Homo sapiens: one gene and its partners. The protein of the gene in region 4 interacts with the protein of the main gene of each other region in a pairwise test. Each region holds a gene or a part of one and is shown on either strand. Other genes may lie near its edges.

The links. The genes of interacting proteins can lie anywhere in the genome.
Region 1: the proteins of JPH3 (region 4) and EIF3F interact in binary tests that used the Homo sapiens proteins (3 or more experiments, as listed by UniProt).
Region 2: the proteins of JPH3 (region 4) and PLB1 interact in binary tests that used the Homo sapiens proteins (3 or more experiments, as listed by UniProt).
Region 3: the proteins of JPH3 (region 4) and ZNF500 interact in binary tests that used the Homo sapiens proteins (3 or more experiments, as listed by UniProt).

The regions. Positions count from the first base shown.
Region 1 is NC_000011.10:7,985,814-7,990,276, reverse strand, and holds the start of EIF3F (eukaryotic translation initiation factor 3 subunit F), read right to left. Parts: upstream 2,941-4,463; 5' UTR 2,925-2,940; coding exon 2,561-2,924; intron 1-2,560. UniProt on the Homo sapiens protein: Component of the eukaryotic translation initiation factor 3 (eIF-3) complex, which is required for several steps in the initiation of protein synthesis.
Region 2 is NC_000002.12:28,502,531-28,506,199, forward strand, and holds part of PLB1 (phospholipase B1, membrane-associated isoform 1 precursor), read left to right. Parts: intron 1-3,669. UniProt on the Homo sapiens protein: Calcium-independent membrane-associated phospholipase that catalyzes complete diacylation of phospholipids by hydrolyzing both sn-1 and sn-2 fatty acyl chains attached to the glycerol backbone (phospholipase B activity).
Region 3 is NC_000016.10:4,760,523-4,764,191, reverse strand, and holds part of ZNF500 (zinc finger protein 500), read left to right. Parts: exon of another isoform or gene 1-519; coding exon of another isoform or gene 520-582; intron 583-1,435; coding exon 1,436-1,619; intron 1,620-1,856; coding exon 1,857-1,921; intron 1,922-3,603; coding exon 3,604-3,669.
Region 4 is NC_000016.10:87,689,506-87,693,174, reverse strand, and holds part of JPH3 (junctophilin-3), read right to left. Parts: intron 3,530-3,669; coding exon 2,649-3,529; intron 1-2,648. UniProt on the Homo sapiens protein: Junctophilins contribute to the formation of junctional membrane complexes (JMCs) which link the plasma membrane with the endoplasmic or sarcoplasmic reticulum in excitable cells.

The DNA of each region.
Region 1 (4,463 bases), on a different chromosome or scaffold from region 4:
TGGGTTCAATTACCTTCTATATTCCAATGACATAATTCCTAACCTGACATACTTGCCCACATCTCTTTTGCACTCCAGACCTTTAGTCAACCCCTACCTTCCCTTTCTTCTTTCACACTTAACCAAAGATGTAGAAGTCATCCCTGATATTTTCTTCTAATCCCTCACTTCTGATCACACCATGTCCTGTCAACTTTATTTCCTATCTCTCAACTCACTCATTCCAGAGTGATTTTTAATTCCTATTCAGTGTTAGCTGAAATGCTCAGGAGCTTCCCCAAAGAGCTTCAAATGAGGTTAGACTTTCATTTTGTCTTCTCAGGGATCCAGGTAATTCCCTTCACAGCACTTTACATTTGTAATTATTTAATACTTCTTAGGGCTCTGCCCTCTGCTAGCTTCATTTCCTGCTCTACCTCCTGTCACCTACATTCCTGTAATACTGAATGTTTCAGACAGTGGATTTACCAGGCTTTTTTATACTTCTTGTAGTTGCTTTAATGCCCAGCTCAAACGTCATCTTTTTTGTGAACTTTTCCCCAACCTTCTGAAATAGTTAAGTCTTCTGCATTTCCATGCCACCATGACACCCTTCTATTGGAACATTTATCATATTACATTCTAATTATTTGCATTTAAGAGTACACTTCTATCTTGAGTTTAAGGTTACAGGAGAGCTCACTTTATTACACTTTGAATTCTAAATACCTTAACAGTTTTATGGTACAAAAAAAGCACCAATGACTTCATTTAGACAAATGAAATGTTTTGTGTATATCTAAGGAAATAAGTTCATAGCAAGCAGAATCTATTCTTTATTCTTCTGTAAGTATTGCCTCTATAACACCTATAGCACTGTACCATGATTCCAGTCTGGAAGAGGATCTGAGGATGTAGATTAGATTATACCTGGTCTGACTGGATCACTGGAATATTTGGGGCGCTAAAGCATAAATCATGGGTAATGAATTAGTTTCTTTAAATAGCTTTAGCGAGCTTGGAAAATTAGAAAGTGCAGCCAAAAGAGTAAGTATTTGCTGAGTGTCAAGTCAGTGATGCAAAAATAATTTATTACAGAAGCTCAGAGCAGGGCACAGTTACAGAACACCATCATGCTGTGGAAGGTTAAGAATGGAGTGAGGGTCCGGGTATGGGATGGAGGACCGGCACTTAATGCTGTTGCTGGGAACGTGGAAGGTAGGTAGAGCTTAAACAAATGAAGGACAGCAGGAAAAGCACTTGTGGCAAAGAGAACGCAAAAGCTTGGTCTGAGAAAAGACAAGCAATGTTCAGAAGATATGAATTTAAGTTTCTGTAAAATGCTATACCGTCAAAGATAGATAAAGGAGAGAAAATGTGTGTCTGTATGCATTGGGGTGGTCCAGGCCTGATGTGAATGGCAACTAACAGCTGTACCTAATGTGTGCCAGCATAGTCAGAAGTTTTTAATTTAGCTCTCACAAAGACTAAGTCTAAAGTAGCTCCTGACAGAACAGATTTTAGGTAATCTGCCCCAAGTCACATGGCAAATGTTTTGTGAGGTCTGCTTACAAATCTTGTCTGCTTTGCAATATACCAACTGTCTTCTATGGTGTAAGAACTAGTAGATGTTCAAGAGTATGAAAGAGAAAGAATGCTTGTAAATAAAGTGGATTCACAAAGCTATTTAAAATCTGGCACTAAGATGGAATGGAAACGAATTTCATGGGACCAGCATAGTCTCCAGAAAGGAATTTATTATCAACAATCCCTCTTTAGTGCTTTTCCATTTTACAAACTACTTTAACATAAAATATCTATTCCCCAAATTTGGAACACAGGCAGAGAATGGGTCATTTTTCGACCTGAAGGTTAAGGGCAGAAATATAAACAGATAATACAACTGTTTGCGTCCAAATGCAAAATGGGGGAACAGGGTTTCTCACATTAGGTACTAATATTAGGGGACACTGAGGGACACAGATCAGGCTCAGACGTTTAGGACAGCAGAACACTATAAAATCCCAAGCGGGTTCCAACCAAACCGGTTTACTTGTTGGGAGGAATGTTTTTTTACAAACGTCCCCACTCCTTTGACAACTGGTTAGAAAACTTTGTCAATACCTGGAAAACGATGACATTTAGTCAGTGGATAAGGGAGAAATATGTGGTCACTGGTATAGGGAGTCAAGGGTTCCTGACTTCCCACTCGGCGTGTGAACTCATTTTTGGTAGATGCAGCCCATCATACTTGCCATAAACTGCTGTTTATGTAAAATGTAAACCACTGGCATAAATGTAAACCACTGGCATAAAATATTCAGTAAATGACACAACTACTCCTTGTGTATTTTATGTCGCTTAAAGTGACAGCAATCCGGCAGGAGAGAGAGGAGAGATGCAAGTGCTTGAGAAGATAAGTCACAGCAAAAGGTAGGATGCAGATATAGATTAAGAGGTCATTGGGGATGGGAGGAAAGGACGGTAGGACACCAGGAATTAAAGAATTAATGAGTTAGGGGAGTGAGATAAATGAGAAGTGGGAGGAAGAAAAGAATGTTAACTTTCTCTGACCACTCACCCAACAGGGTCCCGATAACTCGGGCAGCACCCTCGTTGCGTCTCTCGTAGCTGTCCACAATGGAGGCCAAAATGACTGGGTGCAGCCTGACCACGCGGCCGCCGGGGAAGGGCCCTGGAAGAGCAGGACCAGGCAGAGCGGGCGCTGGGGTCTGCGCTGGAGCTTGCGCTGAGGCCGGGGTCTGGCCAGGAGCCGCAGTTGCAGCCGCTGCTGCCGCAGGGTCTGAGGATGAGGCTGGAGCCGCAGCGGGAACCGGAGCCGCAGCCGGTGCTGGCGTTGGCGCTGGAACTGAGGCTGGGGCCGCCGCCGGGACTGGGGTTGGCGTGGCCGGAGGAGCACTTACTGGTACCGCCGGTGTGGCCATCTTGTCGAGAAAGAAGGAGGCGGAAGCGGAAATGACAGCATTCATGAATATCAGGAGCTTGATAGGCTGAATATACACCACGTGAGCTAGAGCTTTTTGCTGATTGGTTACTGGTGATACTTCTCGGAGCACTGAAATAGTCCCGCCGTTGGTAATTTCTTCTGGAATTTGTGCGCTCTGCTTTTGGCCCGAGGAGCACTCAGGAAACCCTGGGCTAAGTAGTTCCGGGTAAAACTTGGGACGGCGTTCGAAGAGAAACACTTTGTGCAGCTGCCGCCAGGTGGAACCAGAAAGCAGCGCGGAGGTCGAAATTCGTGTTTTAGACTTAAATGAGATAATGGATGTCAAAGTGCCTTTAAAAAGGATTTTAAGGCCAGGCGCGGTGGCTCACGCCTGTAATCTCAGCACTTCGGGAGACCGAGGCGGAAGGATCGTTTGAGCCCAGAAGCTCGAGGCTGCAATGGGCGAGAAGGAGAACTTAGCTGGATTTCTCCTGCTGCTTTGAGAAGAGACTGGAGGGTGAGGGGAGGTGAGGAGAGGGAGGCGAGAGAGGGAAAAGCAGGGAGACCTGCTGGGAGGCCACTAGGTAATCTAAGTGAGAGATGATGGTGGCTGGGACCAGGCTGGTAGCAGTAGAAGTTCTGAGAAGTGGGAAGATTATGGATATATTTTGAAGGTAGTTTCAATAGGGTTTCCTGAGAAATTGTATATGAGGTGTGAAAGAGAGGAGTCAAGGAGGACTGCAATTTTTTTTTTTTTTTTTTGTACTGAGCGATTAGTAGGATGAAGTCACCATCAATTGAGATAGCAAAAGCTGTAGGTAGAGCAGGTTTTGGGGAAAAGATCCTGATTTCATTTCTGAATGTGTCACCTTTGAGATGTCCATTACACATTCAAGTGGAGTTGTAATAAGGTGTATAAACTAGTCTGTACTTTAGGAGAGGATTATATGAGGTATTGCCTTGTAAAGCTCTTAGCACATGCCTGATATACAGTAGTTATTAAGTCATAGCTATTATCACTATGTGATGGAGGGAGCTCTGACCATAACCCACTGTGTAACTTGGGGCAATCTACAAGTTTTTTCTGAGCCTCAATTTCCTTCTTGGTATAATGGGGTGATAACATCTGCTTGTAAAGACAAAACAAAACACCAAAAAAACTGTCAACTCCCTTAATTAGGTCAAGTCCTAGTGTCCAGCTGGCAAGTGGATAGGTGAGGTTGAACTTCTTATCCCTGATTCTGTGCCCAAGAGTTGATTTCTCCTTGGAGAAATCTTCCATTATTAGAATTCACATGACGCTGCTCCCCTGTAAATGCTCTGTGTAGACATGCATTCTTTCTTTCACCAAAACAAAGGTGAACAGCCAAACAGAAGAAGATTGAAAAGTAACTCTTGGATTTGATGACCTGGAGTCTTTAGCAACCCTAGTAGAGCAACGTCAGTGGGACTGAGGGTGGGGTGGGCACAGAAACTAGAAATCTGGTGTGAGAGAATGGCCAGTCTGAACTGAAAGCAGCAAGTGCCAGCTTTTCTT
Region 2 (3,669 bases), on a different chromosome or scaffold from region 4:
AATACTGAATGATCCATTGGGATTGTATACCCATTGCTGGCGTAAAATCAAGTTGATCATGGTGTATCTCTTTCCTTATATTGCTAGGCTTAGTTTGCTAACAATTGTTTCAGGTTATTTTTCTTATATGCCCATGAATGAGAGTGAGTTATAAGTTTCTTTTTTCTCTCTGCCCTTGCTGGATTTGGGTACCAATGTTTTACAGTCTCATAAAATGAATTTGGGAGTGTTCCTATTTTTCTGTTTTCTGGAATAGTTTGTAATAATAATGGATTTTTTTTCCTTTTAATGTTTGGTAGAACTTGCCAATGAAGCCATCTGGGCCTGGAATATTATTTTTTGGTAGATTTCTGACTACTGGTTCAATTTCTTTAGCACTTATAGAATTAGTCATATTTTATTTTTCTTAAATCCACTTTGGAAAGTTTTTTTTTCTAGGAATGTGTCCATTTCGAGTAAATTTGCAAGTGGTTTGGCATAAAATTTGTGTATGGTTTTCTGTTATCCCTTCAATACCTGTAGCTTCTGTAGTCATGTCCTTTTTGTTTCTGGTACTGATTATTTATGATTTATCTTACCAGAGGTTTGTCTACTTTATTATTTTTTTCAAACCAATTTTTTATTTTTATTTTTTATTTTTTGAGAAAGGTCTAACTCTGCTGTCCAGGTTGGAGTGCAGTGGCCTGATCACAGCTCACTGCTGCCTCGACCTCTGGGCCTCAAGAGTTGCTCTCTCTCCAGGCTCCCAAGTAGCTGGGACCACAGGTGCATACTACCACACCTGTTAATTAAAAAAAAAAAATTTGTAGGGAGGGAGTCTCACTATCTTTCCCAGGCTGGTCTTGAACTCCTAGGCTCAAGCTATCATCCAACAGCCTCTCAAAGTGTTGGGATTACAGGCATGAGCCACCATATCTGGCTTTTATTGATCTTCTATGTCACCGTTCTCTATTGAGGCATAGCAAACTACCCCCAAATCTCAGTGACTTACAGTAGCAACCACTTCATTTACTCACAGTTCTGTGAACCTGCAGCTTGGGAAGACTTCAGCAGAAACATCTCATCCCTGTTCCACATAGTATCATCTGGGATTGACTTGGTGGGTCCCAAATGAGATGTCTGGGGACTTGGTACTGGGACCTGGGTGTCTTCGTGTTCCCCTCCTTGGCCTTTGTTTCTGTATGCGCAGTCTGGACTTCTTTACATGGGGACCCAAGGTCCCAAAAGAGCACAAATAGAAGCCACAAAGCCTTCTAATGTCCGGTCCCCAAAGTCATTTCTGCTGCTTCTATGAGTCAATGCAAGTTTCTGTAGTAGCCTGGATTCAAGGTGAAGGAAATAGACGTTGCCTCTTGATGGGAAGAATGGCAAAAGTCACACTGCAAAAGGGCATACAGGATGAGACGAAATGCTGTGGCCATCTTTGGAAAAATATACCATCGTCTATATTGTATGTTTGTTTTCCAGTTCATTCATTTATGTAAATTTATCTTGCTTGGCCTTTTTAGCACATCCTGAATCTGTGGCTTGATTACTTCCATCAGTTTTGAAAAATTCTCAACCAGTATCTCTTGAAATGTTGCCTCTACTTGATTATTTCTGCCTTTTCCTTCTGGAATGCCAGCACAACGTTTGGCCTGCTCACTCCATGTACCATGTCTCTTCACCTCTCTACCAACTTTACCATCTTCTTGTCTTTCTACACTGCATTCTAAGTAATTTATTATGATACATCTTCTAGCTTATTCAGTCTCCTTCAGTTGCGTCTAATTTTCTGTTAAACCTGATCGTTGAAGATTTTGAAAATTGGTGATTTTATTTTTCAAATTTAACTTACATTTGGTTTCTTACCAAATTGGTAATTAAATAACTTTGGATTCCCATAAAAACTTCAAGTTTGTCTTATTTTAAAAAACATAGTCATTGTAAGGGCCAGGCGCAGTGGCTCACGTCTGTTATCCCAGCACTTTGGGAGGCTGAGGCAGGCAGATCACTTGAGGTCAGGAGTTCGAGACCAGCCTGGCCAACATGGTGAAACCCCATCTCTACTGAAAATACAAAAATTAGCTGGGTATGGTGGTGTGTGCCTGTAGTCCCGATACTCAGGAGGTTGAGGCAGGAGAATTACTTGAACCTGGGAGGTGGAGGTTGCAGTGAGCCGAGATTGGGCCACTACATTCCAGCCTGGGCAACAGAGCGAGACTCAGTCTCAAAAAAACAAAACAACAACAACAACAACAAAAATTCATTTTGAAATTTTACAATTTTGATGATTTTAGTATCCAAAGTCTTTGTGATCTGTTTCTTTTGTTCTCCTGCTGATTCTTGCTTATATGTACCTAATTTCTTTATGTACTATACCTGGTTATCTTTTATTGCATGGTGCTCAGACTCCTTGAAAATGTACTTATGAGATTCTTTGAGGCCTAGGATGAAGGTGAATGTCTTCAGAGAAGATATAAGTGTTCATTCTATTGGGCACTGGGGATGTTATCACATTTGAGGATCACTTCAAACTAAATTCATGGTGTGAGGCTCCCTAGAAAAACCAGGCTCTATGATAAGCACAGTTCATGTATAACAGCCTTCCTTTAAGATGGTCTGTGCTATTTTTCCCATTTTACAGATGAGAAAACTGAGAAGCTAGGTAACTTATCCAAAATCATCCAGCTAATTAGTACAGGAAGCTGAGGTCAGTCCTGAGCTTGGATCCAGGGCCAGCACCTTTCGCTACCTTACAGTATAATAGAGCTCGAGAGAAGAACCAAAATTAGACTTTTATTTAAACTTTTAAATGGACTCAACAAGCAATACATATGAAAACAGATTCCTGCTTTGAATGTTTTGGCTTATAAAACTGAAATATCATTAACTCAACTGCAGTCGGCAAAAGCAAGTTGGCAAGAAATCATTGTATCTAATAAATTACCATTTCTGCTAGAATTTTATTTTCCTCGAATGGGTCAGAAGTTCCCAGAAGATTGTCATGCCTGTGGGAAAAACTTGTTGCCTTGGTAACGTACCCATGACAGGCCTGTCAATGCAAAACCAACGGTGGGAGCTGGGTGAACTCATTGAGTGAGAAAAGGATACCTTTTCATTACTAAAACAAGCTAGGTAACATTTGTTTTGCAAGAGCCCAGGGTTCTTCCTGAAGGTTGGCTTTCCTTCCCTTCCTGCAGGAAGTTTTCCCAAGCCTTCTAGAAATACAGTCTTTCTAAATAAGAGTAGAAAGGGATATTTGAGAACTTTTGGTGGCCTGAGTCCTTCAAATTATTGATGCAAGATCAGGGAGAACCTGCTTGGGTCACACACCTAGTTGGTGGCATAGCCATCCCCGAATCTCTGGTGTTAGACTCTACATCCCAATGCCTCCATCCCCATCCCCAACCCTCACTTCACCTCACACACTTGTCTCCAAATGTCTGCTTTGGACACTGAGCACAGGTATGGGGTTTTCTCTAGAGGCTCAGAAGTTCTACTTTCCTGGGATGTCATCTGTGCCTTGTAGATTTCTAGGACTTTATTGTCAATCATCATTTCCATCAAGTTGCATTTTTGTTACTGTCAGTTAACTGAGCACCCTTCTAAAAACCCAAGTTGGGCTGTGCCTGGCTGGTAGTTACTAAATCAAATGTTAAGGAACCCTCTGGGGAGAGAGAAAGGAGC
Region 3 (3,669 bases), about 83 Mb from region 4:
GCTCAGTCGTCACACATGGCCAGTGGCTACTGTACTGGATGGCACAGACAGGACCCTTCTGACACACCGAAATCTCTATAGACAGTGCCTCTCCACCTCCTTCCAGCCCCATTTGAAGGAGTAGAGGAAGCCTCTTACTCATTCCTGCTGCTTCAGTTTCAGTTGTGGAACTCCTTGAGATTAGAAAGAAGTCCTGCCACCTGCTGTTTCAGTTCATTTTTCAGGGCCTTGCGTGGATGGGGCACATGGGCAGTGCTGACCAGCTGCCTTTCTTCCTGTGGCAGTGCTGCTGGCTGCACACTGCTGGCCTTTTGCAGCCAACAGAGGAGGCACATCCCCTAATGCTTGACCACGGCGTGAGCTGACCGCAGTCAGAAAATCCTGCCATCGGGGTGGCCAAGAAATCGGGGTTTCTTCCCAGCCGGCCAGCCTCTTTCCTGGCCACCACAGCTTCAGTGTTTGGGGTTCCCGGCATGGCTTCCTTCTGTCACTGCACCGACACCTCTGCACACATGCCTCATGGCCATCACTGAGCTGAGAGGGGCAGGCTGTGCTCCCCAAGGGGACTACGCTCCCTTAGAGGTGTGGAATGTTGAATAAGAGGAAGCCTGAGATGGGTCCCTGACGCTGGGTTTGTAGTTGCCTAGGGATGTCTCTTGTCCAAGTGCTATTGCAGAGCTCAATTCTAAGACCCAATTTCATTCAACTCACCTTTCCTGGAATTAGGAAATAGATCATCTCAGAGCACCTGTTGATAATTTCTTTTTTTTTTCTTTTTTTTTTTTTCTTCCCTGAGATGGAGTCTCGCTCTTTTGCCCAGGCTGGAGTGCAGTGGCACGATCTCGGCTCACTGCAACCTGTACTTCCCGAGTTCAAGCGATTCTCCTGCCTCAGCCTCCCAAGTACCTGGGATTACAAGCGTGCTGCCACCATGCCTGGCTAATTTTTGTATTTTTAGTAGAGATGGGGTTTCACCATGTTGGTTAGGCTGGTCTCGAACTCCTGGCCTCAGGTGATCCACCCACCTCGGCCTCCCAAAGTGCTGGAATTACAGGTGTGAGCCATTGCAGCTGGCCAGATAATTTCAAAAAATCTAGCAAATGCAGTTCTGTGAACTTCTGAAATTAGTCCAGCGCTGACTCAGGGCTCTTCTGGCCCAGGGTCTATCCCAGGGTCTATCAGGAGGACCAAGGAATAGAGGGTAAGAATGTGATGGGGAAACGATTGTGGTGACAGGGAGAGACCATGGAGTAGAGCAGGCTGGGAGCTGGCTGCAGGGAACACTGCCACACGGCTGGGCAGAGGGAGGGAGGCTGCAGACAGCCCGGGGGTGGGCAGCCGGCTGGGGTGCCTGAGATGAGGGGTGTGGGGCCCTGCGGGGATTTTTCCTTCTGGCCTTCTGGGAGCTGGTGGGGAGATCACTGTCTGTGTGCAGGGCTCAGAGCTGCTTTCTGATGACGAGGTGCCCCTCGGGATAGGGGGACAGTTCTTAAAACACCAGGCAGAGGCTCAGCCAGAGGATCTGTCCCTGGAGGAAGAGGCTCGATTCTCCAGCCAGCAGCCCCCAGCCCAGCTGAGCCACAGGCCACAGAGGGGCCCGCTGTTGTGGCCAGAGAGAGGTGAGTAGCACCCCTTTGGAGGAATGAGAAGTGGTGCAGGGGAGGGAGGTGAAGGTGACTGGGGTGTGGACTGTGGCCAGGGCAGAGGCCTGCCTGGATGCAGGGTGCACAGGCTCTCCAGCAAGGAGTGGATCTTGGGTGGGCAGCCGCCGGGCTGTTGGGGCCTTGGTGTGCAGGGGACGGCAGGGGCAGTACTGGGTGAGCTGTGTGACTGGTGGTGACTCTGCTCCTTCCCAGGCCCTCCAGCTCCCCGGCATCAGGAGATGGCGTCAGCCTCGCCCTTCCTTTCGGCCTGGTCCCAGGTGAGTGGGATGCTCCTGGTCTGCAGCATCCTGGGGTCTGGCCCGACCTCCTGTGTGTCACACTTCCTTGTTAAGGGGACACCTCTCCTGGGGGCCAAGGTTTTGGATGTCAGAGGAGCTCTTCCCTGGAGTTTTCTCCCTTTGCCCCAACCCTGGAGTCACTTCCCCTGGCCTCCTGGGAAGTCTTTTCTTCTCTCCAGAGGCCATTTAAGTACTCGGCTGTGCCCGGAAGATTCTGCGGTCCACCAGTGAGACAGGGTGGTGACTCCTACTCTGCTGGGCACAGGAATCTCTTGGGACTCTGGGGGAAAACACAGCTTCCTCCCACACCGCTGGGCTGGAATGGGAGTCTCCTTTGTTTGCTTGCTGGTTTTTTTGGGGTTTTTGTTTGTTTGTTTGTTTGTTTGTTTGTTTTGAGCCAAAGTCTGGCTCTGTGCTCACGCTGGAGTGCAGTAGTGTGATTACAGCTCACTGCAGCCTTGACCTCCCAGGCTCAAGGGATCCTCCTGCCTCAGCCTCCTCAGTTAGTTGGGACTACAGGCATGCACCACCACACCCGGCTAGTTGTTTTTTTTTTGTTTTTTTTTTAATGGGACACAGTCTCGCTGTGCTGCCTAGGCTGGTCTTGAACTCCTGGGCTCAAGTGATCCTCTTGCCTAAGTCTCCCAAAGCACTGGGATTACAGGCATAAGCCACCATGCCTGGCCTGTTTTATTTTTATTTATTTATTTATAATTTTTATATGTGTGTGTGTGTGTGTGTGTGTGTGTGTGTGTGTGTGTGTGTGTGTGTATGTATGTGTATTTGTTTTGTTTTGTTTTTGTTTTTTTGAGACAGAGTTTTGCTCTTGTTGCCCAGGCTGGAGTGCAATGGTGCGATCTCGGCTCACTGCAACCTCCGGCTCCCGGGTTCAAGCGATTTTCCTGCGTCAGCCTCCTGAGTAGCTGGGATTACAGGCACCCACCACCATGCCTGGCTAATTTTTTTTGTATTTTTAGTACAGATGGGGTTTCACCATGTTGGCCAGGCTGGTCTGGAGCTCCTGACCTCAGATGATCCACCTGCCTTGGCCTCCCAATGTGCTGGGATTACGGGTGTGAGCCACCGCGCCCGGCCGAACATTTCCTTTAGACCCTCCCCGAAAACCCCCTAGACTCATTACCAGAGTCTCTACCTGTTTTTCCCTCAGCCTCTGGCAACCACAAAGCTCCTTCTTGTCTCTGTGAATTTGCCTGTTCTGGAAAGAGTTTGCTTGTTTTTTTAATCATGCTTCCGGGTCAATCTGGTGCTACATCTGGGAGCCACTGGCCCAGAGGCATCCTGAAGTCCCCCGTCTGCCGCAATGGGGTCCTGGGGCTGGCTAGCCACGGAGCCAGGGGATGCTCTTGTCTCCCTGTGGAGCATGGGCCTCGGTGGCTGAGTGTGCAGTGGGTCCACCACTCCTCGTGGCGAATCTGTCCCTTCTCCGGTGGTGTCCCAGCTCTGCAGCAGTGGCACATGGGAGCAGTGGGCGGAGACACCAGGACTCACCACTGCAACGAGAGTGGAGAAGACCAGCTGCACCACCAGGCTTGGCGCCAGCCTCGAGGGGCAGTGGCGGTGCAGCTCCCTGGGCCAGTGGCCTTAGTTGGGGAGGAGGCAGCTTGCTTGGGGCCAGGACTGAGTGGGGTGCGTTCTGGCAGGTGCCCGTGAACTTGGAGGACGTGGCTGTATACCTTTCTGGGGAGGAGCCAAGATGCATGGACCCA
Region 4 (3,669 bases):
GTGGACACAGCAAGGGCCTCCACTCAGCCAGAGAGAAAGCAAGCTGCCCTGAGCCCAGCTTTCCGTGGCATCGTGGCCTCAGGCAGGTGTATTGTGAGTCTTGGGCCCCATGACAACTTGGTTGGGCCGGGCCAGCCTGCAGGGGGCAGAGAACAGCCAAGGGCCCAGCCCTGCCCACTGATGCCACCCCTGGTGCAAAGTTCCCCCACCCCAGCGAGGAGGAAGGGCCGGATGCTAGTCAGCCTGTAGTGGGGTAGCAGGACAGAGTGGGGTGGTCAGTGGCACCTCTTCTGCCACAGTCCAGCCCGTGCTCTGGGCCGGGAAGCAGGTACGGACGCTGTGGGCGAGGGCGTGGCTGCCCGCAGGAGGGAAGCTTCTGTCTCCCCAGCCATCCTCCAACCCTGGACCCCACCATCAGGTCATATCCATCATTTCACCAAGAGGGAAACAGCCAGGGCCAGAGTTCCTTCACCAGTAGAGCGGTAGGGAGAACCTGTGCTTCCATCCTAAGGGACTTTACCCTGAATTGCCAGGGCCCTACACGGGCCAGAATCCCAGGCCCATCTGTGGCCAGTGGGACCCTATGTGGGCTAGAATCCCAGGCCCATCTGTGGCCAGTGGGACCCAGGGCCTCTGGCGTGTGAGCTCTGCAGCATGTTGGGAATGGTGGAGGGGGATGGCCAGAAGACAGCACCCCAGACCCTGCTGGTGGCCCAGGGGAGACACTGCAGAGAGCTGTACCCCTGTGAGGGGGTGGCACTGAAGGCACTCAGCCCAGCCTGGCACCCGACTGCCCTGACACCTGTCCCCTGACATGGATGCCGGCTGGCACGGGCCCCTCCTGCTTCCCACCAACAGGGCCTGGAACAGTGCTTAGGATTGACCGCGCCTCTACACACCATCTCCCCTCACAGACCTGGCAGAAAACACAGCTCCAAAGCTGTGGGGAGGGAGACGGGGAGGGAGACAGGGAGGGAAACCTTGTTTGCACCAGCACCAGGTACCCCAGGGTGGCCACTTCCAAGGAGCTCAGCTGGCATCCTCCAGGGTGGGTGGGACATGATGCTGCAGCTGACGGGACCTCCAGATTAGCCCCAGCTGGAGACCGGGCAGGACCAGGGCAGCATGTAGCACCCTGCGTGTCGCTAACTCATCCCAGAGGCCAGCTTGGCACTTGTCCCCAGCTTGTGCATTGACCCCCAGGGAGGTTCATTTAAAAGCACCCAAAAGTGTCAGTGCATTAAGCAGGCTAAAAATAGAACCCGTCCCTACACCTCCCACCCTGCCCACTGCTTGGCTGTTCCTAAAATAACCGCGCGCGCACAGCCACGCACACATCTCCGGCTGCGATGGGGAAAATCAAGTTGTAAGTGTGAGCTGGTATTTTGGTCCCAGCAGGAGCATAGGGGCTGTTCTCTGTGGGCTTTGGGGAACGGGGAGGCATCTTAGGAACCCAACAGGACAGACAGACGTCCGCAGTGGTTCCAAGGAGAGGCAGAAACAGGCATTGCCGCCCGGCAGGACGTGCCCCTTCAAAGGGGTGTCACGCGGTGACCCCTCTGGGGGTGGGGCTGGCAGGAGGAGAAAACCACAGCTCCCCTAGGTCAGGGGCAGGGACAGACACCGACCCCTGCCGCAGCGTCGACAATAAACCTACCAATGGTCCCCCCTGCCCGGCCCACACGCCCTGAGCGCCCCCTGCGGACACCCCCCTGCGTCCTCACACCCGAGGGGCAGACTGGCTTGCAGCACTTCTGTTCAGCACCACGCACTGCCTGGCAGCCACGAGCGAGCAGAGCCCTGCTGGGGTGAGGGCCTGGCCGTGCGCAGATCCTATGTAGCCACCGTCCCACAGCCCTTCATTCCCAAAGCCCTTCATTCCTGCAGCACTGGTCAAGGGAGCAGGGTGGGATTTGCAGAGTGAAGGTCCCTTCAAGGGGAGGCCAGCCCTGTGTGAGGCACCAGGACCCCCAGCCTCGCACACCGAGTCTAGCCTGGGACCCCCAGCCTCGCGCCGAGTCTAGCCCAGGGGGACGCTGTTCTTCCCTCCAAGCTGCCTGCCCTGGAGGAACGAATTTGGGGGGGGGGTGCTGGGTGAGGCTGACGGTGAGTTGCACACAGCGGGCCTCACGTGGGAGCCGGCTCCAACCCCAACACCCCCCATGGGTGAGAGAAACCTGGACTGGCAGCTCCCCCCAACCCCAGACCTGACTCCCAGCCCCAGGGCCAGCCTTGCCCCCAGCTGTTTCGCCTCTGGGTTCCTATCCAGGACACAGGACACTCAAGCGGTCATCTCACGGCCCAAGGCTACTGACCAGGGGCACAGACTCTTGGAGCAGCTGGGGTTGAGCACGTTGCGGGGAGCGCAGGGATCCCATGCTGCCTGGAAACCAGGAGTTTCGTGTGCTTTCTGGACAACCTGGGGGCAGCCTCTCACGGAAAGAGGTATGACACCTGCCCCACCTGGCTTCCTAGGGGAGGGTCCCAGCGACCTGAGGGCCACCACTCCCGGCTGTACCCCCACCCTACTCCACCCCTGGAGAGGAACAGGGGAGCAGTGACCTTGCTGGAAACCCTCAGGAAACACCAGGTCAGCAGAGAGGTGGATGTTGCCTCCACTGGGACCAGCCTGGTGGCCGCCCACTCACCGTACTGGACTTGAGCTCATCCCCATTCTCCTCGTCGGACTCTAGAGCGACAGGCAAGGATTTCTGGGGCGGGGAGAAGGTCAAGTCCCAACGCAGCAACCGGGGCTCGGCCCCGCCCAGCCGCAGGCTCGCCAGTTTCTGCACGGCGGGCTCCGCGGAGGAGGCCGGCCTGAAGTTCTCCTTGTTCTGGGCCTTGGACCGCAGTCTCTGCACCCCGAAGCCCCGGTCCTCGGGGCGGTGGTCGTCCCCCAAGCCCCGGCAGGCGCCGCCCTTGCTGTAGCGTCTTTTCTGGGGATGCGTCTCCATCCTCAGCAAGGGTTTCATCTCCATCCGGTAGTTGCTCAGCTTCTCCTCCTGCAGCTCCAGCAGCCTGGAGCCTCCGGGGCTGTGGTTGCTGGCCCGGTGGTGGGAAGTCCACGTGAACACGGGGGGTGACTCCGTCCGCCGCTCCCGCGGCTTGGGGTTCCCGGGCTGCTTGCGGCCCGAACCTCGGGTGCGGAAGTCATCCACGAGCAGGCCGCCGCGCAGGGCACCGCTGCGGACACCCCTGGAGCCCCCGGCCTGCTCCTCGCCCCAGCTGCTGCGGGCGCAGTCCCCGGCCCGGCCCTCCAGGAGCATCTGGATGTCCCCGCCCCGCTCCTCGTCCACCGACACCTGCCTCGAGAAGTGGGCGACCTTGTTCCTGGCGGCGGGCGCGGGCGGCGGGGTGGCCGCGGGGCTGGTGGGGAAGCTCTGCAGGGGGCTGTCGTCGGGGGTCAGGTCGGAGGGAGTGGTGCCCTTGCGGTACAGCTCGGGGCTCTCCTGCTGCAGGGGTGTCCCGGTGGACAGCACCTCGATGTCGTCACAGGAGGTCTGACGCTTCGGCCTCTGGTACTCCAGCCCTGTATGGGGACACAAGACGACGCCAGACGGCGTTACCCAGCACATTCCACAGCGAGGCCGCGGTCCCCGGGCCAGGGCGCCAGAGGGAACCTCAGGGCAGCAGAGGCGCTTCCCACTCACCGAAAGGCTGCAGGCAAGG